Homo sapiens: one gene and its partners. The protein of the gene in region 1 purifies or fractionates together with the protein of each later gene. This does not show direct contact. Each region holds a gene or a part of one and is shown in the gene's direction. Other genes may lie near its edges.

Region 1 (3,500 bases):
GGTGAGGCAGGATTTGGGAACACTGCCGAAGCTGGAGATGGGAATCCTGGCTATGGCTGTCTGGACAGCCCTGGGTGGGCACTGCCGATGGCACAGTGCATGGTTGGGAGGGAGCTGCTGCTGCTTCTCCTCCTGTTGGAGCCTGACAGGGGGCAGCTAATAGGAGCCGTGGCATCTCCACTGTCCAGCCCTTCTTTGTGGCTAAGCAGCATGTGGTCTTGTCCATAGGTTGATTATTGGGCAGTAATTACTGCCAATGAAATCTCCAAAAATTATTGAATCACAGAACAACTGTGTACTATAAGCTCAGCGTAGCACAGGACTTATGGCAGCGTAGCTGGTGGGTAGGAGGGTGGCTGGTGAGTAGGAGCGTGACTGATGGAGAAGAGCATGGCTGGTGGGGAGGAGTGTGGTGCTGTAGTGTGGCTGGTGGGCAGGAACGTGGCCGGTGGGTAAGAATGTGGCTGGTGAGTAGGCACTTGGTGTGGCAGTGTGGCTAGTGGGTAAGAACATGGCTGGTGATTAGGCATGTGGTGTGGCAGTGTGGCTGGTGGGGAGGAGCATGGCTGGTGGGTAAGAACGTGGCTGGGAGTAGGAGCATGGCCGGTGGTTGGGAATGTGGCTAGTGAGGAGGAGTGTGGGTGGTGGGTAAGAATGTGTGGCTGGTGAGTAGGCGAGTAGTGTGGCAGTGTGGCTGGTGAGTAGGAGCATGGCTGGTGGGGAGGAGTGTGCTGTGGCAGCGTGGCTGCTGAGTAGGAGCATGGCTGATGGGGAAGAGCGTGGCTGGTGGGGAGGAGCGTGGCTGGTGGGGAGGAGTGTGCTGTGGCAGTGTGGCTGCTGAGTAGGAGCATGGCTGATGGGGAAGAGCGTGGCTGGTGGGGAGGAGCGTGGCTGGTGGGGAGGAGTGTGCTGTGGCAGCGTGGCTGCTGAGTAGGCATCACACTTTGAGCTTTGAAGCGAGGCAGCCCAGGGTTCTGGTTTGGGCTTCTCCTGTAATGGTCACGTCATCTTGCCCAGGTTATCTTCTGTTGGCCACAAGTTTCTTCCTGCATAGAGTGGGGTAGTGATTACCTCTAGGATTGTGAAGGTGGGGAGAGAATGCGTATAAAGATGCTGCTTCCCAGTCTAGTACTGTTTTCTGTTCTGTTTGCCAGTCTAGTGAATTGCTCGATGACCAGCCACCACTCTCCCTCATTGCAAGGGCAGATAGGAGTGAGCTGGCTCTTTCTCGAGGCAGGTAGGACTGGTGGGCCGTCCCCTCAGGAGCCAGCTGTAATTTTAGAGTCCCTGTCCCTTTTCCCGAAGGGAGTGTTTTATCATGTCTGGGTTTATATCATCATCTTATGCAAGTGTCACTGATAGGTCCCAGTCAACTTGATAGACATGAAGCAAAACACACACACAAAATCAATACAGGATAACTAAACCATTATGTAGATATTTTATTCCAGGAGATGGATTGATCATCACTATAGTAGTATCATATTATGTTTTATAGCAGGGGTCCCCAGTTCCTGGACTGTGGACCGGTACTGGTTCATGGCCTGTTAGGAACTGGGCCGCACGGCAGGAGGTGAGTGGAGGGCGAGCAGGCATGACCGCCTGAGCTCTGCCTCCTGTCAGATCAGTGATGGCATTAGTTTCATAGGAGTGTGATCCCTGTTGTGAACCGTGCATTCAAGGGATCTAGGTTGCATGCTTCGTATGAGAATCTAATGTCTGATTATCTGAGGTGGGAACAGTTTTATCCCAAAACCACTCTGCCCCCCCATCCCACCCTGGTCCGTGGAAAAAATGTCTTCCACAAAACCAGTCCCTGGTGCCAAAAAGGTCGGGGACTGCTGTTTATAGTACTGGACTTTAGAGGCTCTTCTTTTATCTTCTTTCTCCTTATCGATTATCATAGCAGCCTTCTAAAATGATCAGGGCAAGCATTAATTGTCCCCATTTTGCAGATGTGAGAATTGAACCTCAGCAAGTTTGATTGATTTGACCAAGTTGCCCTGACTAGTAGATGGCAGGTATGGACTAGGGTGTGACGTGTCACTCTGTTCCAAAGCTGTCTCTGTTCTTCCATTTCCTGCTGTTTGGAGTCATTGCTTGGTGCCATCCAGTTGCTGAAGGAGTGATGGTTTATTTATCTTATTTGAAGAGCCAGCGTGTGCTCTCAGTGGGGTGACCGTGTGCCCTAATTTATGCCTTGCATAATTTATGTCCTGTGTCAGTATTACCAGTGCCCACAATTAGCCTTGGAGGTGTCCTGGCTCTAGACATACCAAATGGAGCAAAATCATATATGAATGAAGATACTGTTTTGTAAGTGTGAAACTTACATGTGCATTTAATGAACCAAGGTGGAAACAGCCTCTGCTAACCACAGGCCTTTTCCCTCTGAGTGTGTGTGGCGCTGCCGCGCTCTGCCTGCACTTCCACTCTTTTGGTTGTAGACTTCTCAGAAGCTGACTCACATACACCTGTATATAAATACTTAGATTCTACACGTTGGATAATGATTTGATTATTTCAGCAGGTTTTGTTTTTGTTTTTTTTTTGAGACGGAGTCGTCTCGCTCTGTCACCCAGGCTGGAGTGCAGTGGCGCGATCTCGGCTCACTGCAAGCTCCGCCTCCCATGTTCACGCCATTCTCCTTCCTCAGCCTCCCGAGTAGCCGGAACCACAGGCACCCACCACCACGCCCGGCTAATTTTTTTGTATTTTTAATAGAGACGGGGTTTCACTGTGTTAGCCAGGATGGTCTTAATCTCCTGACCTCATGATCTGCCCGCCTTGGCCTCCCAAAGTGATGAGATTACAGGCGTGAGCCACCGCACCTGGCCGCATATTTCAGCAGGTTTTTCAAAGCTTTGATGTGTTTATGTGTCTGCTCTCCTGCCCTGGGGCTGGGATGGAGTTTTGGTAAAGAGTGATGCTGTGCCTGAGCAGATTCCATGTCGTTTTCTCTGTAAATATTACCTAAGAAAACTGACCTATGGTTTAGTAAGCACCTTTGTGCCCACACTGTGCCAGGCGCTTGCCCTACGTTACCGCATTTATTCTTCCTCCCTTTGTAGATGAGCCTAGAGGTTCATACCGTCAGGGGCTGACACGTGGCGGTACCTCCAGCGGGAGCCCTGGATTTTTACCCCCTGGTCTGTCTCATTCCAGACTCTAGGACGTTTCTTCTTGCACACCTCACTTTTGACGTGTCCTTTTGTGTCTACAAAATTAGTATGTTTTATGTTCATTTTCATACTTGAAAATGTTCACATTTGTCTTAGTCCACAAACCATAAATGCAGTAAAATACACCTATAGGTGACTGCTGATATATTTTAAAAATATACAGAAAGGTATGCAACCTACATATTTACTTAAAGAAAACAAGTTTAAAAAACAATTAAAAAAAATTTTTTGATGGAGTTTTGCTGGATAAAACTGAATGAGAAAGAACACAGGTTTATCCCTTGCAGGCTGCTTCTGCTGTGGGCTCCTTGAACAGCA
Region 2 (3,500 bases), on another chromosome or scaffold:
ATTTGTTAGGTGGGGCCAGAGCAGCTTTCGGTCTCAGACTAATCTTTCTCTAATGTTGAGGCAAAACCCTTCTGAGTACTCTACCCACGAATGATAAGGTTTTCCACTTTGAATGGTGGGGAGGGGATAGGCAGTATACCATGCCCTGTGTGAGCCCTGTATATTATTCCCTGCAATCTTTTCAGGTGGCCCTTTCCCAGCTCCAGGGAATTTTCTTACACATATGCCCAGACAGGACTCAGCTGAATATGGGAGGGGGATTCTCTGCAGAACTCTAGAGTTATTTCTCTGTGCAGCTCTTGTCTTCTCTTGTCCTCTGTCCTGTGAGCTCTAGCAACCTTGGTTTACTTGACCTCCCAGCTTTATCTCTTCGATTTAGGGGAACCACTGGGCTCCACCTAGGTTTACCCTGTCTGCATTGTGGCCTGGAAGCACTCTCCAGGCAATAAGCTAGGACAGTTGTAGGGCTCTGTTTCCCATCTGTTAGGGATCACTGTTCTTCATTGCGTAATGTCCAGTGCATTTTATAAGTTAGATTTTACTATTCTGTATCACATGCTTCCTTCCAGTTATTGCAAACTGATAAAGTTTTACTGTTGTTTTTATCTAATCCACTTTATTGCTCAAATCATTTGCCATTAAAATACAAATGGCTCTTCCCTAACTAAAAATTAAAAATGAAATGAAAAAAATTCAAGCTTCTAAAGTAAACGTTGCATAGTAAATATCGTGGTATATATACTCTGGTTTATCTTGCTGAAAGGCGTTGCTCTAGGGGTGATGAGTTGAAACCCAAGGTAATTTAGCCTGAGATGTGTTAGAAGAACAACTGACACGCCTATTTAATAAGTGTTATAGTCCCAGTTTGGTAAGTAAATATTTTCCACAGATATTTATAGTTTTTTTTTTGTTTCAGGTAGTCAAGTGAAAAAATGAGCTTCATCTGTGGATTGCAGTCTGCTGCTAGAAACCATGTTTTCTTCCGATTTAATTCACTGTCTAACTGGAGAAAATGTAACACATTAGCATCCACCTCACGGGGCTGTCATCAAGTACAAGTTAACCATATAGTAAATAAGTATCAGGGACTGGGAGTAAATCAGTGTGACAGGTGGAGTTTTCTGCCTGGAAACTTTCATTTTTATAGTACTTTTAACAACAAAAGAACAGGAGGCCTCTCAAGTACCAAAAGTAAGGAAATTTGGAGGATTACCAGCAAATGTACTGTATGGAATGATGCTTTTTCAAGACAGCTGCTAATAAAAGAAGTTACAGCAGTCCCTAGTCTGTCAGTATTGCATCCTCTAAGCCCTGCTTCCATAAGAGCTATTAGGAATTTCCATACTTCTCCACGGTTTCAAGCTGCTCCGGTTCCTCTCTTGTTGATGATTCTTAAACCAGTACAGAAGTTATTTGCAATCATTGTAGGCAGGTAAAATGCTTTTTTAGAATAAAAACTTTTATATTAACTTTTTGCATTAATATTTTGTGCTAACGTATTAACTTTTAGAAATTAATTTTTTTATTTATAAAACTGTACTTTTAAAGAAACCTTGCCAGATCCCCTGTCTCCCCCCATTTAGCTCAAAGTGAAGTTTCTAAACAGTAGGTCCTGCCCAATTTTGTTCTGTATGATTTAATAATCTTGAAACAATTTCCTGCATACTAATTTATGGTATAGAAATATCTCTTTAAAAAGTTATTCTTACATTTTGTATAGGCATTAAAAAAATCTTATATTTATGACTACAAAATCTTAGGATATATGGATCAGAAGTGCTGGTTATCACTTATGTATAAGAAGAGTACTTACAAACATTTCTTTTTAATTTGTGGAATTTAAGGCAGCAAATCATAAAATTGAGGAACTTTGCTTATATAAGGGTGGGCTCACTCCTAGTTAACTCTTAAGTCATTAATGCTTCTTTTCTTTCTATTCTGTTCCCAACAAATCTTTGTTTTTTTCCTTGGTGATCCTTTATAATAATATTTTCACAGCTTGTAGTGCTTTAACCCTTTTTCTCTTGTTTGTTTTATGAAGATGGAAGAAAGCTAATCACTGTTTCTTCATAAAGCTTTCTTGTGTTTGATGACTGTGAAGTCCCTTCTAGCCTTCTTACTACCACATGAACCAAACCAGTTTGCTTTTGATCAAAAACCAAGAACTTCTATTTGTAACTTATTGTGTTTTTCATGATTTGGTGTTGGCACCCAAAAGCGATACAGCTGTATTGACTATTGGTTGAAGTAATACGCTCATCCCAGGTTCTTCGGATGCTCTTTCTGATTTCTGCTATGTCCTCATCCTTTTAAATTATTTATTTGTAACTTTCTTGTTTTTGTTACTATTGTTGATCACCTAAAATTTTTCATTTAGAATATGTCTTTCATACATTTTAAATAAAGGATAATGTCATGTAAAGTTTTAAATAGGAAATAAGTATACTCGATAGTTTGATTTATGTCCCTTTAAATGGACACACTTTGTGTAAAGGCATTGGGGTGTGTCACTTCACAAAGAGAACTTTAAGAATTTGTAAAATAAATTTTTGTCAAGAGAATGATGTATATATGGTAAATTTTTGTTGTGATTTTACAGATCAACTCATAAGGAAAATTTTTGTCCCAGTATTGAAAACATTGCTTGTTGTCAAAATGTTTCTGAACACTGCTAAGTGGCAGAGAGTATTGTTGCCTGGTAGAAATTGGACCTTCTCAGATGTTATCTATAAAATCTCCCACTTTCTTATGAATACCTAGGATCTTGTTATCTCTCCTTTTTCACGTTGTAAAGAGGATAGTGGAGTTTCTGCTACTGAGCACTATTTATTTCCAAAATGAATGCTGAGGCAGTTTCCCTTGTACCTTGTGGAATCACTGGCAAATTGTGTTGGAGGTCTGAGGAGCAGTGGGAAAAGTAGTGGTTCCAGGTATAGATTTATTGTACTGTAACCTCTTACATAATTATTTAGGCATTTATCCCTATTAAGTGGCTAAGTGGTCAGACTCTGGAATGTCATTGCCTTCATTGCTTGGTTTTCCTTTTATTACCTCAGTGGCCATGGACAAGTTACCTAACAATTTTATCTTCTGTAACAGGGTTATTATGAAGATTAAATGAGATGGTATATATATATATACAGAGAGAGAGAGAGAGAGAGAGAATTTTGCATGTACTAGATAGTAATAAATATTAACCAGTGGTAGTTATAGTAAACTAGCATCTCATTTAGTGTTTATCCTTAAAATAGCTGAAGAAGAAAATTTCGATGAGTATTAGAATTTTTTAACTGTAACTTTACATCATTGATTATTTTTTCATCATTTAGCTAAGAATTTTATTAATTGGAAAAGCGATGTATTCAGCGAAATACATCATACAAATTCAGGTATTTGAGGACGTAAAATTCTAGTGTATGCATTTGAGCTTTAGTGATATGTGCTGGAATGATTTTCAGAACTTTGAATTTTTCTTTTTGCTTTAGGGGCATAAGGAAATG
Region 3 (3,500 bases), on another chromosome or scaffold:
TGGAACCTCAGAATGTGACCTTATTTAGAAATAGGATCTTTGCAGATGTATTAATTATGATGAAGCCATCTTGGAGTAGGGTTGGCCCTAAATCCAGTGCCTAGTGTCCGTATAAGAAAGCCATGTAGAGACACAGGCACACACAGAAGGAAGATGGCGATGTGGCAATAGAGGCAGAGATTTAAATGATGCAGCTAGAAGCTGAGGAGTGCCAAGGACTTCCAGCAACCACCAGAAGCTAAGAGAGAGACATGGAACAGATTCTTCCCTATACCCTCCTAAAGGAACCAACTCTGCCAGCACCCTGATCTCGGACTTTCAGCCTCCAGAACTGTGAGAGAATAAATTTTATGTTGTTTTAAGTCCCCCAGTTTGTGATAGCACCCTTAGGAAGCTAATAAAACCTCCTTACATTCCTGGGATAAATCCCACCCGTTCATGGTATGTGATCAGTCCCCTTCATATACTCTTGGATTGGGTTTGCTAGTATTTTGTTGAGGATATTTGCATGTATTTTCATAAGGGATGTTAATCTGTGGTTTTCTCTTCTTGTGATGTCTTTGTCTAGCTTTGGTATCAGGATACAGCTAGCCTCATGGAATGAACTAGGAAGTATGCCCTCCTCTTCTAGTTTTTGGATGACCCATCATCTCTTACCTCACCTACAGCAGGAACCTTGAAATTGGACTTCTGCCTCACACCCTGCAATCTCATCTCCACATTATGACCAGAGTGATCTTCTTTTTTAAAAAAAACTTATTGTTACTATTTCAATTGATAAATGAATTGTATATATTTATGGTGTACAACGTGGTATTTTGATTGTGTACACATTGTGGAATGGCTAAATCAAGCTAATTAACACACCATTTTTTGTGGTGAGAACACTTAAAATCTACTCTCAGCAGTTTTCAGATACAGACTACATTGTTATTGACTGTAGTCACCATGTTGTACAGAGTGATCTTCTCAGTGGACAACTCTGTGCACATCCCTCAGAGCCGCAAGGCAGTGATATCCAGGTTCCTGAACAGGGTCTCCAAAGCCCTCCACCCACGGGTCCTTTCCTTCCTGTCTCGCCACATCTTCCAGGTCCATGTCTCAGCTATGTGAGGTTCTTTTCAGTTCCTTAAGCACATCCCACTGTTAGCTCAGAGATATGTTGCAGTCCTAACTCCAAGTACCTATAAATGTGGCCTTATTTCACAATAGGGTCTTTGTAAATGTAATTAAGTTAGGATGTGGTCATATTGAATTGGGGGGTGGGGGTTAAGCCAAATGACTGTGTCCTTAGAAGAAGAGGAGAAGAGACAGACACAGACAAAGGAAAGAAGGTCAGGTGGAAATGGAGGCAGAGATCAGAATGATGTGTGTATAAGCCAAGAACACCTGGGACTATCGGAACCTGGGGCAGCCAAGGAAGGATCCTCCCCTAGAGTGTTCGGAGGAAGCATGGCACTGCCGATACCTTGAATTCAGACTTCCAGCCTCCAGAACTAGGAGAGAATAAACTTCTGTTGTTTTAAGCCACTGAGTTTGTGGTTCTTTTTCCAGCAGCCCTAGGAAACTCATACAAGGATATAGGAGGTTTATTTGCAGATGAGTTTGTTGCTTCTTTAGTGGTCTGTATCTCATAGCACTAGAAAGAATAGAAAAGTTAATTCCAGATAATGTGATGTATTTGTTTTGTTTTTCGTAGACAAAGGGTGGAGGATATGAAAGTGAAAGTGCTTACCCAAATGCAGAACTTGTGTTCTTGGAGATCCACAACATTCATGTCATGCGAGAGTCACTACGCAAATTAAAAGAGATTGTGTACCCTTCGATCGATGAGGCGCGGTGGCTCTCCAATGTGGATGGGACGCATTGGCTGGAATATATAAGGGTAAAGAGATCCAGCACTTTATATGCTTTCCAGTTAAGACTTCTTTGTGCCTGTGCCATAAATACGTATATCTCCAAGTGCCTCTTGGCTGTGTGCATGAACTTTCTTATTCAATAGTTTCCATGGACAGCATCAGACTGGGGTCTTTGTGGAGGGCTTTTGTGACATAGTGAAAAGGGAAAAATGCTTGCCTTAGGTCAGGCTTTTAAAGAACTTCGTGGCCCTTTAATAAGGAACCATATTTACTCCTGTAGTTTTTCTCCAGTATAAGATTTTTTCTTTTCTTTTTATTTTTTTAATGTGATGCTAATATTTCCTAGTGATTCTCAGCTGATTGCCTGCCATTCTTGCTTGGTTTATTGACCAGAACTTCCAAAGCTCTCCCCAGAATTATTTTACATTGTTTTACATTTAATTGAAATTCAATGTAGCCTGGTCTAATGTGCCTTTTTTTTCTGAAGATGCTGCTTGCTGGGGCAGTAAGAATTGCTGATAAAATAGAATCTGGGAAAACATCTGTGGTGGTGCATTGCAGCGACGGTTGGGACCGAACAGCCCAGCTCACATCTCTGGCTATGCTAATGTTGGACAGTTACTACAGGACCATTAAAGGATTTGAAACTCTCGTAGAAAAGGAGTGGATAAGCTTTGGACACAGGTTTGCACTGGTAAGTTCAGACAGTGAGGTTTATGCTGGACTGTTTTGCGGTATCATATGGATGTAAACGTCATGTGTGACACACGTAAGCGCATATATACACACACACGTGCAGGCTTTCTCTTCTGTATCATATCAGACCTGAATTGCCATAATAAAATACATGGACCTCAGGCATTGTATGTTCCTCATAGGGCGTTTTTATTTTAGTGTATTTATGCCTTTTTAAAAAATTGAGGTAAAATTCATATAACATAGAATTAACCATTTAAAATGCTCAATTCGGTGTCCTTTAGTAAATTCACAGTATTATGTAACCATCACCTCTAGTTTGAAAACATACTCTGGCCAGGCGCGGTGGCTCAGGCCTGTAATCCCAGCTCTTTGGGAGGCCCAGACAGGCAGATCACCTGAGGTCAGGAGTTCGAGACCAGCCTGGCCAACATGGTGAAACCCCGTCTCTACTAAAAATACAAAAATTAGCCAGATGTGTTAGCGGGCGCCTGTAGTCCCAGCTACTGAGTAGGCTGAGGCAGGATAATTGCTTGAACCTGGGAGGCAGAGGTTGCAGTGAGCCGAGGTCATGCCACTGCACTCCAGCCTGGGCAACAGAGCAAAACTCCGTCTCAAAAAACAAAACAAAACAAAAACCGTACTCTTCACCTCAAAAGGAAATGCTGTACACATTAAACAGTCATTCCTCACTTCCCCCAGCCCCTGACAACCACTAATATTTCTGTCTTCATATACATTTGCCTTTTCTAGGTACTTCATATAAGTGGAATCCTACAGTATTTGTCCTCCCATGACTGAGTTACTTCACTAAGCATAATATTTTCAAGGTTCATCCATGTTGTGACAAATATCAAATTTTCATGATTTTTTATAGCTGAATAGTATTCCCTTGTGTGTATATACCACATGTTGTTTATCTGCTCATCTGCTGATGGATGCTTG
Region 4 (3,500 bases), on another chromosome or scaffold:
CCTGATCTGAAGACTGATGGTTTTGGCATTGACACATGTCGCAGCATGGTGGCCGTGATGGATGTATCCTTGGGGGCAGTGTGGGAGAGGCCCTGGGTGGACAGAGAGTTTTTTGAGAGTATGTTTGGGAAGCCAACATGTAGCTTTCATATCCACAGATGTGGAAATGCATTCATCAGAACACAGTCACCTGCAGACATGTGGCGGTAAATCATAACAATGCCAGCTGTCACAGCTGGCACTTTAATTATATAAAGTGACCGAACCGTCATAACCACCCTGTTGGACAGGCACAATTATTATATTCCATTTTACAGAAGAGGAAACTGAGGCTCAGTTTCCTGAAAGAAGCAGTCATTTGTCTCAAGTTATAGATAAAGGTCAGGCATGGTGGCTCATGCCTGTAATCCCAACACTTTGGGAGGCTAAGGTGGGCAGATCACCTGAGGTCAGGAGTTTGAGACCAGCCTGGCCAACATGGTGAAACCCCATCTCTATTAAAAATACAAAAATTGGCCAGGCACGGTGGCTCACACCTGTAATCCCAGCACTTTGGGAGGCCGAGGCGGGCGGATCACGAGATCAGGAGATTGAGACCATCCTGGCTAACACAGTGAAACCCTGTCTCTACCAAAAAAAAAAAAAAAATTAGCCGGGCGTAGTGGCGGGCGCCTGTAGTCCCAGCTATTCGGGAGGCTGAAGCAGGAGAATGGCGTGAACCCGAGAGGAGGAGCTTGCAGTGAGCCGAGATCGCGCCACTGCACTCCAGCCTGGGCGACAGAGCCAGACTCTGTCTCAAAAAATAAAATAAAAATAAAAATAAAAATAGGCCGGGCGCCGTGGCTCACGCCTGTAATCCCAGCACTTTGGGAGGCCGAGGCGGGCGGATCACGAGGTCAGGAGATCGAGACCATCCTGGCTAACACGGTGAAACCCTGTCTCTACTAAAAATACAAAAAAATTAGCCGGGTGCAGTGGTGAGCGCCTGTAGTCCCAGCTACTCGGGAGGCTGAGGCAGGAGAATGGCGTGAACCTGGGAGGCGGAGCTTTGCAGTGAGCCGAGATCGCGCCACTGCACTCCAGCCTAGGCGACAGAGAGAGACTCCGTCTCAAAAAAAAAAAAAAAGAAAAAAAAAGAAAAATAACAATAACAAAAATTAGCTGGGCGTGGTGGTGCACGCCTGTAGTCCCAGCTACTCGGGAGTCCCAGCTACTCAAGCAGGAGAATTGCTTGAACCCGGGAGGCGGAGGTTGCAGTGAGCAGAGGTTTCGTCACTGCACTCCAGTCTGTGGACTCAGGTCTTTTGGGCTTGAGAACCCACGTTTATAACAGCCACATGCGCATATACACACACACACACCTAAGAGCACACCCACATACGTGAAGGTGTATGAGGCAGTGTGCACAGGGACACACGTGTTATCTGTACATGGGCCAGCCATTAGCTGATCTTGGATACATGCATATTTTTATTTATTTTTGTTTTAAAAAATATTTTATAGAGAAAAGCTTTCACTATATTGACCTGGCAAGTCTCAAACTCCAGACCTTAAGCAATCCTTCCGCCTTGGCCTCCCAAAGTGTTGGGATTACAAGCTTGAGACACTGCGCCTGGCCTCATGCACATTTAACACATAGGGCAAACAGACACATACATAATATACATGTCATGTAATCACAGACATATTGCATAGAGCAAAGCAATCCCAACTCTACCTCTTAACCAGGTTATTGAACCGCTCTGTGCCTCAGTTTCTCTCTCTGTAAAATGGGTGAGTGATAATGGTGATACCGAATCGGAACTACATCCAAAAGGTTTAGCACAGTGTATAGCGCATAGTATGTGGTCTGTACACATTAGCTCTTAACTATGATCTTGGGTAGAGTTTTCAGCTTTGAATGTTTTCTTCTCTGGAAATAGTCCTGGTAGAACTGGTGTCCCAAGGATTTAGTGAGAAAGTGATGTTCCTGAGTGGACATCAGGTGGATCCTGAGTTCAAGCGATCCACCTGCCTTGGCTTCCCAAAGTGCTGGGATTACAGGCATGAACCACCATGCCTGGTCACACACTTGTTTTTCACATATCCTAACATTTTTATGAAATTGAGTTACTGTCAAGAATTTTCTTTTCTTTCTCTTTTTTTTTTTTTTTTTTTGAGACAGAGTCTCACTCTGTTTCCCAGGCTGAAGTGCGGTGGTGCCATCTTGGCTCACTGCTAACTCCACCTCCTAGGTTCAAGCAGTTCTCCTCCCTCAGCCTCCTGAATAGCTGGGATTACAGGTGTGCGCTACTACAGCTGGCCAATTTTTGTATTTTTAGTAGAGACGGGATTTCATCATGTTGGCCAGGCTGGTCTCGAACTCCTGACCTCAAGTGAACCGCCTGCTTCGGCCTCCCAAAGTGCTGGATTGCAGGCGGGAGCCACCGTGCGTGGCCTATTAAGAATTTTCTGAATGAGCAATTAACAACTCTTCAGGCAAGGAATTTGTACTTTAGAGTAGTTGAATATAATTCCTCATGGTTATGTTTAAAGAGAATCCCTATTTAGAAATGTAAGTGACAATATGTATGGATAAAATGAAAAATAAAACCGCACACCAGGTGATATGACTAGGACCAAGCGGGAGCTGGAGTTTCAGCCCTGGCTGCCCTGCTTGCTGTATCACCATCGTGTCCACAGTGCATGTGATGCATGCATCTGGGTGTAGCTGTCACTCTTCTTAACACCCTCCCACCAGAGCGACACCACAGGCAAGCTGGGCTTTGAGGAATTCAAGTACTTGTGGAACAACATCAAAAGGTGGCAGGTGTGTAGAAACCTCTGAAATCCCTGGCACCCAGACCCCCAAGCCATGGAGACACTATGCCCCACAATGCTCACTTGGACCCAATGTCTCTGTCCTCACAGGCCATATACAAACAGTTCGACACTGACCGATCAGGGACCATTTGCAGTAGTGAACTCCCAGGTGCCTTTGAGGCAGCAGGTATGGCTGGCAGGGACATGCTGGGGCTGGGAGTGGGATGGGTGAGAAAACCTCTACTCAGCTGGTCTGGGCCTGACTCCTGGGCATGGGAGTGGGTTGGGCCATGTGGCCCCCGCACCTGAAGGACTACATCCATCTTAGGGTTCCACCTGAATGAGCATCTCTATAACATGATCATCCGACGCTACTCAGATGAAAGTGGGAACATGGATTTTGACAACTTCATCAGCTGCTTGGTCAGGCTGGACGCCATGTTCCGTGAGTGACAACCCAGCTGTCTTCCTGGGTGGGGATTCCTATGACCTCTATGGACCAAGGTCTCCTCTAAGCCTGACTTTGAGGTGGGCGATGCTAGGGGCACAGTGGTGATTGAATCAGTTCCAGTTTCTGCCCTCATGGAGCTCACAGTCTGGTGGAGGAGACACAAGTCCCCAGACAGTGACAGTTCAGACTGGTGATGGCTGGGAGAGGGGAAGCTCAGGGCAGAGTGATGGGTTGTGATGGGGGCAGC
Region 5 (3,500 bases), on another chromosome or scaffold:
CCTGCCAGGATCCAGGCCTGAGAGGCCAAGGCCCTCGTCTGGGACAGGAGTGGCCTGAATGGAAAGAAAGAGGTAGGCTCAAGAGATATTTACAAGAAAAAGAAATCCCTTTTGAAGTGAGATTTCTGACACTCCGAAGTTTTTTTTTAAAAATCATAATAGTGTCATAGAATGAGTAATTGGATTCCCACGATGGAGGCGAAGCTCCGGGAGGAAATGAAGGAGGACAACGTGAATCCCAGTGTTGAAACCAAGCCAGCACCAGGCAGGCAACTCACTCCTGCTATTTTTGCAAGTGAGATCCTCCTAGAATTCTGTTTCTCCAATTGAAACCAAACAGCTAAATGTTCCCAGAGCTGTAGAGGTGAAAATACTCTTTGAGGTTAAGTGAACGGTTCAAGGACCCAAAGGTTTGGAACATGGTTGTCACATCAGACCCCTGCTCAGGCCTGTCTTTCCAAGTCGCCTCTCTGTCTTTCCAAAGCTGACTCTGAGGGCTGGTGCTGGAGCAGAAGGAGGGTTAAACAGCTCACATTTTTTTGCCAGGGCTCCCTTTTTTTTCTCTACCCCATCTCCAGCTAGTTTCCCTCCATTCATTTCCCATCCCCATGGCCTAGATTTTTCCTACTCTCAACCCTTCCATCAAAATGCATTGCACGATCTTGTTCCTTCAGGATCCTGATGGCTCAGCTGGGTGGCAGCCATCATCTAGGTCCACACACCAACCAGAGCAAGACAGCAGTAAGTGACACTGTAACAGCACACACTGCCATGTAGTGGCCACTCCCTAGAGCCCAGGTGTCGGGCTCAGAATGTCACTACTGCAGTCTTGGATAATCACTGCAGTGATCCTAGAAACATACATGTAAATAGTGTGCTGTGCCAAAACAGAGGAAGCAGAAACTTAACAAGTGTGGCTGAGATTAGGTGAGTAAGCCTTGGGCTGCTCTGTGCAGAGATGGATCTAGAAGAGTAGCATGACACCAAACTGCGGGAAGTCTCGATGCCACCATAAGGGATTCTGATGTAATTCTAGGAGTCAAGAGGAATCACTAAAGGTATTTAAAGTATGGTGTGAAGTGAACACATGCGAGCTTCCCAGGGTGGACTGCAGAGATCAGAGCCTGGTATCGGGGTGAAGGCTAAAAACACTTAGGACCTGTTAGGCAGTGACAGAAGGAATGAAGAAGAGGAACAGGTAAAAGAGTTGTCTCATAGGTGAGACAGGCAGGACTTGGTAGTATTTGAGAGTAAAAAAGACTGATGGGCCCTCAAAGGTGACTTTGGATTTTCTCTAATCCGTGTGATGCCATGCACTGAGACAAAGGAACAGGATGAGGAGTGGATTTAAGGATAGACAAAATGAGTTTGGTTTAAGCTACAATGGAAGTTGAAATGCCTTGGGAGATCCGTGGGAAGTTGACTACAGGCAGCTGGAAATAAGATCTGAACTCAGAGGAGAGATTAGGGCTAGAGGCGCTGATCCTGGAGTCATCAGTCAAAGGGCGAAAGTCGCCTGGGAAAGGAGTGACTCCAATAGAGAGGAGAACTGAAAATCGAGTTTAAAAGGCCAGTGGAAGAATACAGGCCAATCAAGAACCCTGAGAGGGAGGTGATGGAGAGGAGAAAGGAAAGACTGGGAAAGGAGGTACAAAGCCATCTAGGAAGGTGTTTCACGCAAAGAATTGTCAACCGCAGGCCGGGTGCGGTGGCTCATGCCTGTCATCCTAGCACTTTAAGAGGCTGAGGCAGGTGGATCACCTGAGGCCAGGAGTTTGAGACCAGCCTGACCAACATGGTGAAACCCCATCTCTACTAAAAATACAAAAATTAGTTGGGCATGGTGGTGGGTGCCTGTAATCCCAGCTACTCGGGAGGCTGAGGCAGGAGAATTGTTTGAACCCAGGAGGTGGAGGTTGCAGTGATCATGCCACTGCGCTCTAGCCTGGGTGACATAGCCAGACCCTGTCTCAAAAAAAAAAAATAATTCCCGACTGCAGAATTCAAATGCTGCAGAACAGTCAGGTACATGCAGGAACCGAGAAGAGGTGCTGCATTGTGCCTCAGCTTCCTCTTCTGTAAAGAAGAGCTTGGACTAGATAGTCTCTAACATTTCCTCCAGCTCCAGAGATTGCTGACTGCTGTGCCTTGATCCCACCGAGCTCGATCACTGGGGTGAGCAGTTCATGGAGGGTGGTCCCTGTGCACACCCTGCATGGATGTGAGGCAGTGCCAGGCGCGTGGTCATTTACATCCCCTGGTGTCCCGGGTTTCCCACGTGCGTGCTTAGGACCACCGCGGACTGGACCCACACTTGGATTCTCGCATTTCATTCTCACAATAGCCTTGTATACTATTACCCTCATCTTAGAGGTGGGAAAACTGAGACTTGGCAAGAAAAATCACTTGCCCAATGTCATGCAGTCGGTACAGGGTGGAGCTGTGATTTGAGTCCAACCTGAATAAATCTAATGTGGGGTTTGATGGTAAAACCGTCTTTCTTATTCGCACACTGGAAATACCTGTGTCATCTTTCCGATCCTGGTTCCTGGTTCAAACAAGGACATTCTCCCCTTCTTTCTTATTCACTATAGTTTTCAGTACTGATCAAATTGCTGCCATGAGCTTGTATTACTTTGAGCATCAGGGGTAAAAAAGCTTCTAAAAATAACATAATCTAAAGGTAATAGGAGTTAAAAGGGGCAACCTCCCTTCATGGTTTCAATCAAGACTTCTCTCCTGAGATTAACAAATGTATGGGTGGGGTTAATATTGTAACAGTTTCAGCCTATATCCTAATCTTGTTCATGCAATTGTAAGCACCCAGAGGCCAAGGAACAGGCCATCTTTTTCCTTTTTGTTTTTTAAAACATTTTAATTGAGATATAATTCATGCACCATATAATTCACCCATTTAAAGTGTTCAATTCAACAGTTTTTATTATACTCACAGATGCATGCAACCACCACCACAGTCAATTTTAGAACATTTTCATCACTTCAAAAAGCAGCCCTGGACTCCAGCTACCATCCCCCTAGGCAGCCCACCCACCCCCAGCCACTAGTATACTTCCAGCCTCTGTATATTCTCCTGTTCCGGACTTTCATACGAATGGAATTATATAACATGTGATCTGCTATGATTGACTTCTTTCACTTAGCATAATGTTCTCAAGGTTCATCCATGTTATAACATCTATCAGTAATTTATTCCTTTTTCTGGCCAAATAACATTCCATTGTATGGATACCCCATATTTTGTTTATTCATCTTCAGGTGATGAACACTGGGGCTGCTTCCACGTTTGAGCTATTATGAGTAATGCTGCTATGAACATTCACATGCAATTGTTGGGTGGACATATGTTTTCATTTCCCTAGGAATAAAATTAAGGAACCAGCCATACTCGTTCCTCTTTCCACCACAATGCCTAGCACTGTGTGCCATGTGCTGTGAGGCCTCAATGGCTATTTGTCTAAGTGAATGAAAAGAATACAGTT
Region 6 (3,500 bases), on another chromosome or scaffold:
TTTATTTTCCCTTGCTTATTTAAAGGAAACAGTGCCACACATAATGCTGTGCAAATAAGCAATCAACATTTACTGTTTGCTAAATGAATGAATATGATGCCTAATCCCTCCTGGTTACCTTGTATTTTCATAATCACAATTTCCCAGAAACTGTGAAATTACTGGGATTGTTTTAAGTAGTTTGGTGATGGTTCCAATTTTCAACAATAAAATATAATTAATATCAGAGCCAATCGATTTGCTCTTTTTTACCTCTGACTGAGTTGGCTGGTGCTCATGCAGTCCAAGTATAGTGTTAAGATAGGCAAATTGAGGCAGGAGGATTGCTTGAGTCTCAGAGTTTGAGACTATAGTGCACTGTGACTGAACCTGTGAATAGTCACTGGAATCCAGTTTGGGCAACATAGTGAGACCTTGTCTCTTTAAAAAAAAAAAAAAAGATATGAGAGTAACCTCTGAACTTCAAAATAGAAAATTTTTAAAAGTAAATATTCTTTGATTTAAGTAGGCTTTTTTACTACAGTGTTTGTACCTTTGTATGATATAGTTTTTCTTGTGTAGATAAGTCCTGTTAAAGAAAATATAATATCCTGTTTTACAATGTGAAGTTAGTAAAGATTTACAGAACTTTGTTTCCTTTAAGAAGGTTTTACTGAATTCTTAGCTAAATTAATCCCATTTAAAGATTGATTTACATGCAATAATATTCAGAAATATTTAATATATAAAGTAAATCTTAATTGGACAGGTTCTTGAGGTGAATTACCATACCCAAGAATTAGCTCCTGATCAGTAAGACAATTCTGGGAGGACCAGTTATAGGAATTGTGAATTATAGGGACTCTCTCATGCTCTACAAAATCTGCCAAATAATTAAGATCTGTTTTTCCCAGTACATTAAAAATAACATTTTTCTCTCTTGTAGTGTGACTGTGGGAAGATGGAGGAGTATGAGAAGTTCTGTGAAAAAAGTCTTGCCAGAATACAAGAAGCATCACTATCCACAGAGAGCTTTCTCCCTGCTCAGTCTGAAAGTATCTCACTTATTCGCTTTCATGGAGTGGCTATCCTTTCTCCACTGGTAAACTTGCTTTGTTTTTAAATAGTTTTTTTCTGTAGTGAACAACTAAAACAGTTCGTGGAAAAACAAAAGAAAGGCTTATAAACATTTGAAGAGATGCCCTCATTCAGAATTAGAGAAATACAAATGAATTAGCATTTTTTACTTACTATTATAGATTGGCCAAGACCTAATAGAACTTTGTGTTCCTTAGATTGTGGAGAAAATGCACTTTTAATGCACTTTTGCTAAGAGAATCAGTTTATTTTATTTCTAGATGAGCAGTTTGGTAGAATTTAAAAGCATACATAGCCTTTGGGTCAGCAGTTCCATTTTTGGGTATATCCTACAATTATATGTGAGCCCAAAGAAATAAGTACAAAGTTACATTAGCATTGTTTAAAATAGCAAAGGTTGACGAACCACCTAAATGTCCATCAGTAGTGGAGTAGTTTAACTATGGTCTATTTTATAAACTCTCATACATACCATTACAGTAAGGCAGATGTAAATGTTGAGGCATGGAAGGATCTCAATGATCTAGTGTAAAACACCGTGTGCAGCATGCTGTCAGGGGCAGTATAGAGTCATGATTAGAGGTCCAGACTCTGGGCCAGGCACAGTGGCTCACACCTATAGTCCCAATGCTTTGAGAGACCGGAAGGAAGAGGATTGCTTGAGACCAGGAATTCAAGACTAGCCTGGTCAACATAGTGAGACCTCATCTCTATAAAAACATGTTAAAAAATTAGCCTGGCGCAGTGACATGTGCCTGTAGTCCCAGCTCTTCAAAGGCTAAGGCGGAAGGATCGCTTGAACCTAGGAGTTGCAGGCTGCAGTGAGTCAGGATTGCATCATTGCCTGGACTACAGAGAAAGACCCTATCCCAAAAGAAGGAAAAAAACTCCAGCCTGGGCTAACAGAGCAAGACCCTATCCCAAAAGAAGGAAAAAAAAAGTCTAGGCTGTGGAGCCTTCTGGCCTGGGTCCAAATCATTGCTTTGCTACTTACTTGCTGTGTAAACTTGTGGTCCATTTTCTTATTTGTTAAATGGGGATAAAATAGTGCCTACCTCATAAGGCTATTTTGAAGATTAAATGAATTCGTAGATATAAAATGGTTAGAATACCACCTGGATCATAAGAGGTACCCAATATAAGTTAACCATTTGGGTTTTTCAAAGGATGGCTATTCCTTTTCTGGGGAGTGGTGAGAGAATATAGGATAATAGGGAAGACACTTCATCATACACCCTTTGATACTAATTGGATATTTTAAAAATGCATATGACTTTATTTTAAATCACAAACTAATATTAGAAAAAAGTGAGCTTTAAATTTATTTTTTGGTATAACAGGAGTTAAGAGATTAATTTTAATTAATTGAATTGAATTTTTAAAGACACCAGAGCTAACTGCCAACTTTTTGTAATGAAACTTTCAAACATACAGCAAAGTTGAAAGGATAGTGCAGTGACCACCCATAGATTTACCATTAGATTAAATAATTTTTAACATTGTTGTCATCTTTGCTTTATTGTGTTTGTGATTTTTATATACATCTATGTGTGTGTGTACATATGACATTTTTAAAAATTGCCTAGCTATTTGAAAACCACGGAGACCTGACACTGCTCCCCTAAATATTTTGGTGTACATCTCTTAAAAATAAGGACATTCTCCTATGTAAAGCCCCAATACCATTATCACATCTTAAGAAAACTAATAATTTTTAATAATATCTAATAATTCTGTTCATATTTAAATTTTTCCATTTGTGCTCAAAATGCCTTTTATAACTTTATTCCCCCAATCTGGATCCAAAGTTCACAATTAGTATTTGCTTGTTATGTTTCTTTATTTTAATCTAAAATAGCTACTGTACGTCTTAAAAACAGTTTTTTTTATTGGTTGAGCATGGTGCCTCACGCCTATAATCCCAGCACTTTGGGAGGCTGAGGTGGGTGGATTGCATTGCTTGATCCCCAGAGTTTGAGACCAGTCAGGGCAACGTGGTGAAATCTCATCCCTACAAAAAATACAAAAAAGAGCTGGGTGTGGTGGCGCGCACCAGGAGTCTCAGCTGCTCTAGAGGCTGAGGTGGGAGGATCACCTGAGCCCGGGAGGCTGAGGCTGCGGTGAACCCTGATCATGCCACTGCACTCCAACCTGGGTGACAGAGTGAGATACTGTCTTTAAAAAAATAACAAAACTATGATACTGAATTTTTAAAGAGACCAGAGCTATTGTCTTGTAGAATTCCTTAGATCTTGGATTTGTCCCATTGTTTCCTAATAGTGTTATTTAACTTGTTTCTCTAGTCCCTGTAGTTCCTATGAACTGGAAGTGAAGTTTGATAAACAGGTTAAAGATTTTTGGAATTCTTTGAAGATAGGGCTGGGCGGGGTGGCTCATGCCTGTAATCCCAGCACTTTGGGAGG
Region 7 (3,500 bases), on another chromosome or scaffold:
ATTAAGAAACCTTGTTAATGAAAAACTAGAATTTACATCCTAAATAGCATCTTCATATTTAGAAGAAACCTTTGCCAATTGTGAGAATAAATAGCCTGGATTCCAAATTGAACCTTTCCTACCCCTCACTCCCAGCTTGTATGAGCTTTGGTGGCTTCACTGAATGGCATGGTAGAGGATGAAACATGTATTAGGACTTTTTTTGGAGACGGGGTCTCACTCTTGTCACCCAGACTGGGGTGCAGTGGTACAGTCATAGCTCACTGCAGCCTCAAACCCCTGGGCTCAAGGGATCCTCCCACCTCGGCCTTCTGAGTAGCCATGACCACAGACGTGCGCCACCATGCCCGGCTAATTTATTTATTTTTGAGACGGAGTCTCTCTGTCGCCCAGGCTGGAGTGCAGGGGTAGGATCTTGGCTCCTGCAACCTCTGCCTCCTGGTTTCAGGTGATTCTCCTGCCTCAGCCTCCTGAGTAGCTGGGATTTCAGGCGCGTGCCACCATGCCCAGGTAATTTTTGTATTTTTAGTAGAGACGGGGTTTCACCATGGTGGCCGGGCTGATTGAGAACTCCTGACCTCAGGTGATCTGGCCACCTCAGCCTCCCAAAGTGCTGGGATTACAGGTGTGAACCACTATGCCCAGCCTGTTTTTAATTTTTTTAGAGATGGGGTCTTGTCATGTTGCCCAGGCTGGTCTCAAGCAGTCCTCTCACCTGGCCCTGTATTGGAGTTCTGAAAACATGATTCCTGAGCTAGTTCTTTTTATTTCCCTAGATACCTTTTCTTTCCTTGCCCCCAAATGTGGGTATCTGCATGCACAGGCAGGCAAACACCTTATTTCTGAGGTCAGATTTTACTATATCCCAAATTTAGGCCTAAACTGTTGCTCCCATGGGCAGTTTTTTACACTACTATCCTTGAAGAAGAAGGAAACTAAGTTTGAGGTTGTGCATTTGAATCAGAAGTGAATAGGTGGGGTCTGTTCTGTATTTCCAAGCTCATGAGTGGAGTTGTGCACTTTTATTTGATATACTTAGTCTACTAGGGGTTCTGGGAGTTCAGCAAGCCAAAAAGCAGTGACTAACCATCCTTAGTTAAGCTCTGACCAAACAAGGGTTTTTAGGTTTAGCAGTTTTCATATTCCTAATTCAAGTTCACAGTCTAGAAAAAAATGGGTTTTCCTCCTAACTTGGTTTGGGATGTAAGGACTAAATTTTGCTATTTGTAGCAATACTGGGACAAATACTTTAGATTATGTAGGCCCCATGTGAACATCTGGCAGCTTGAATCTGTATCAGAAAATGTCTAATTACTGTTTATTATCTCTAAACTGGGATTACCTCCTTAAGGGACTGTTGTGATTAATTAAATCATAAGAGATATGAAGGTGCTTTATAAACTGGAGAGTATTAAGCACACTTAGGTTCTTGTTAATGAAAGTGAGATGGTGTCTCTGTCTTGAAATATACCTGGGATTCGTTTTAACCAAGTATGGTAAGGTGACAGACCTGGAGACAACCGCCTTTGAAAGAAGAGTTTATTATTACTTAAATTTCCTGAAAGAGAGGGATATGCCACACAAAAAAATGCAGAGCTATATGGGGAAGTGTCTGAGCTCGTCAGGAGGCAGAAGGTATGAGGGGAAGGAAGCATGGCTCAGCACCTTGGTTTCTATGGGAAGGAATTGGTGGGCAGCGTAGGTACACTTGCTCAAATTTAGGATTGGATAGTTTGAATAATTTCGTTGGGCTCTAGCTTATAGGGCTGGTTCCTAGTTGTCCTATATTTGTCCCTGGGGTGATTTAGAGAAGGGGAAACAGGAGCTTAGTGTACAAAACTTAGATAAAGGAGGCAGGGCCAGGCTGAGTGGCTAATGCCTATAATCCCACCACTTTGGGAGGCCAAGGTAGGAGGATTGATTGAGCCCAGGAGTTTGAGAGCAGCCTGGGCAACATAATGAGACCTTGTCTCTACCACAAAGAAAATTTTTAAATTAGCCAGGCATGTGGCGTGTGCTTATAGTCCTAGCTACTCAGAAGGCTGAGGCAGGAGGATCACTTGAGCCCAGGAGTTTGTGGCTGCAGTGAGCTATGACAGAGCAAGACTCTGTCTCTTAAACAAAAGATAAAGGAGGCAGTTTGCTACAAGCACTTTGGATAGTTACGTTGCATATGAAAGGTATGCTCGCAGGCAAGTTTGCTGTCTAAAAATTAGCCCTGGAAGAGCAGGATTAGCTCCAGGATTAGCAAGGCCTCTAAAATGTAAAAACATCATAAAACACAGAAAACAAAATAACATCGTTAATAGTGTCAGTGTCTATCGTCAGTAATTACATCAGTATGATCAGGAATAAATATGTCATAAAATTGCTGCTGACATTAATTTTGTTTTCCTTTTGTAGGAGGAAGAGGAAGAGGAGGAATTAGTGGTAAGAACTGTCTCAGGTTTGGAAACATCTCAGTAAAAGCAGGGTTTGAGCTTCATGAAATTCTAAGGGCATTTTAAGGAGTTTTTACTTGATACCTTGTAGATAATGGGGGTGGAATAAGCTTTGATACTTCCTGTGCAGTGGAGAGTTTAGGGTGTGAGCCTTGGAAGCTGAGTCTGTTCTGGGTTTGGGGCTTCTTCAGTTGTGGTACCAGGGAGCAGATGGCATCTTGAGGGCCTGGCACTCAATCATCTGCTATTTGTGGTTTAATAAAGAACTTTGGGCTAGGCATGGTGGCTCGTGCCTGTAATCTCAGCACTTTGGGAGGCCAAGGCAGGCGGATTACCAGCCTGAACAACGTAGAGAAACCCCATCTCTACTAAAAATACAAAATTAGCCGGGCGTGGTGGCACATGCCTGTAATCCCAGCTACTCGAGAGGCTGAGGCAGGAGAATTGCTCGAACCCGAGAGGCGGAGGTTGTGGTGAGCTGAGATTGCGCCATTGCGCTCCAGCCTGGGCAACAAGAGCAAAACTCCGTCTTAAAAAAAAAAAAAAAAAGAACTCTGAAGGAACCTTTGTTAGATAGTCCTTCTCTATGTTAGCATTGCCTTTCTAGTTGGGCAGCTGGGGTGCATAGGCCTGGTTCTCAGACAAGGGGATTTGAAGTTTCAGACGTGTCATATTCCAAAATGCTGTGTTAACAAGTAAGGCCTCCTATAGATCTACTTCAAGTTTGGCCAGGTTTCCTTTACCACCTTGTTTTTCAGATAGGACTGAGGCTTTCAGTGCATACTGGCAACCTTGGAAGGCAGGAATGTGAAACTTTTCCCTACTACTTAGCATCAGAATTGAATGGGAGACCGCATTCTGCCATTTCTGGCGGCAGTGTGGCTCTGCCAGCTGGCCTTCTGCACGGTAATTCAGAGGCAGCACCTTGGTTTGGTGGTTGTGTTAATCAAAGCATATGTGTTTGGTGGGTCTCTGCTAAAAATGCCCATTTTGTTTTTTTTCTGTTTCTACATCAGGATCCCCTAACAACAGTGAGAGAGCAATGCGAGCAGTTGGAGA

What was found.
Region 2: the proteins of TUBGCP3 (region 1) and OMA1 purify together in Homo sapiens (affinity purification with mass spectrometry; one large-scale study listed by BioGRID and IntAct). This does not show direct contact.
Region 3: the proteins of TUBGCP3 (region 1) and MTMR1 purify together in Homo sapiens (affinity purification with mass spectrometry, with the first as the bait; one large-scale study listed by BioGRID). This does not show direct contact.
Region 4: the proteins of TUBGCP3 (region 1) and CAPNS1 purify together in Homo sapiens (affinity purification with mass spectrometry, with the first as the bait; one large-scale study listed by BioGRID). This does not show direct contact.
Region 5: the proteins of TUBGCP3 (region 1) and ANXA13 purify together in Homo sapiens (affinity purification with mass spectrometry; 2 studies listed by BioGRID and IntAct, with this or other methods). This does not show direct contact.
Region 6: the proteins of TUBGCP3 (region 1) and CCP110 purify together in Homo sapiens (co-immunoprecipitation; one large-scale study listed by IntAct). This does not show direct contact.
Region 7: the proteins of TUBGCP3 (region 1) and UQCRH purify together in Homo sapiens (affinity purification with mass spectrometry; one large-scale study listed by BioGRID and IntAct). This does not show direct contact.

What each region holds. Positions count from the first base shown.
Region 1 is NC_000013.11:112,550,154-112,553,653, reverse strand, and holds part of TUBGCP3 (gamma-tubulin complex component 3), read left to right. Parts: intron 1-3,500. UniProt on the Homo sapiens protein: Component of the gamma-tubulin ring complex (gTuRC) which mediates microtubule nucleation.
Region 2 is NC_000001.11:58,536,727-58,540,226, reverse strand, and holds part of OMA1 (metalloendopeptidase OMA1, mitochondrial precursor), read left to right. Parts: intron 1-916; 5' UTR 917-932; coding exon 933-1,432; intron 1,433-3,485; coding exon 3,486-3,500. UniProt on the Homo sapiens protein: Metalloprotease that is part of the quality control system in the inner membrane of mitochondria. Activated in response to various mitochondrial stress, leading to the proteolytic cleavage of target proteins, such as OPA1, UQCC3 and DELE1.
Region 3 is NC_000023.11:150,734,896-150,738,395, forward strand, and holds part of MTMR1 (phosphatidylinositol-3-phosphate phosphatase MTMR1), read left to right. Parts: intron 1-568; coding exon of another isoform or gene 569-604; exon of another isoform or gene 605-806; intron 807-1,699; coding exon 1,700-1,885; intron 1,886-2,346; coding exon 2,347-2,553; intron 2,554-3,500. UniProt on the Homo sapiens protein: Lipid phosphatase that specifically dephosphorylates the D-3 position of phosphatidylinositol 3-phosphate, generating phosphatidylinositol. Could also dephosphorylate phosphatidylinositol 3,5-bisphosphate to produce phosphatidylinositol 5-phosphate.
Region 4 is NC_000019.10:36,143,066-36,146,565, forward strand, and holds part of CAPNS1 (calpain small subunit 1), read left to right. Parts: coding exon 1-63; intron 64-2,740; coding exon 2,741-2,809; intron 2,810-2,910; coding exon 2,911-2,989; intron 2,990-3,130; coding exon 3,131-3,247; intron 3,248-3,500. UniProt on the Homo sapiens protein: Regulatory subunit of the calcium-regulated non-lysosomal thiol-protease which catalyzes limited proteolysis of substrates involved in cytoskeletal remodeling and signal transduction. Essential for embryonic development.
Region 5 is NC_000008.11:123,702,894-123,706,393, reverse strand, and holds part of ANXA13 (annexin A13), read left to right. Parts: intron 1-3,500.
Region 6 is NC_000016.10:19,526,942-19,530,441, forward strand, and holds part of CCP110 (centriolar coiled-coil protein of 110 kDa), read left to right. Parts: intron 1-925; 5' UTR 926-940; coding exon 941-1,081; intron 1,082-3,500.
Region 7 is NC_000001.11:46,306,698-46,310,197, forward strand, and holds part of UQCRH (cytochrome b-c1 complex subunit 6, mitochondrial isoform 1 precursor), read left to right. Parts: intron 1-2,403; coding exon 2,404-2,430; intron 2,431-3,199; exon of another isoform or gene 3,200-3,284; coding exon of another isoform or gene 3,285-3,347; intron 3,348-3,457; coding exon 3,458-3,500. UniProt on the Homo sapiens protein: Component of the ubiquinol-cytochrome c oxidoreductase, a multisubunit transmembrane complex that is part of the mitochondrial electron transport chain which drives oxidative phosphorylation.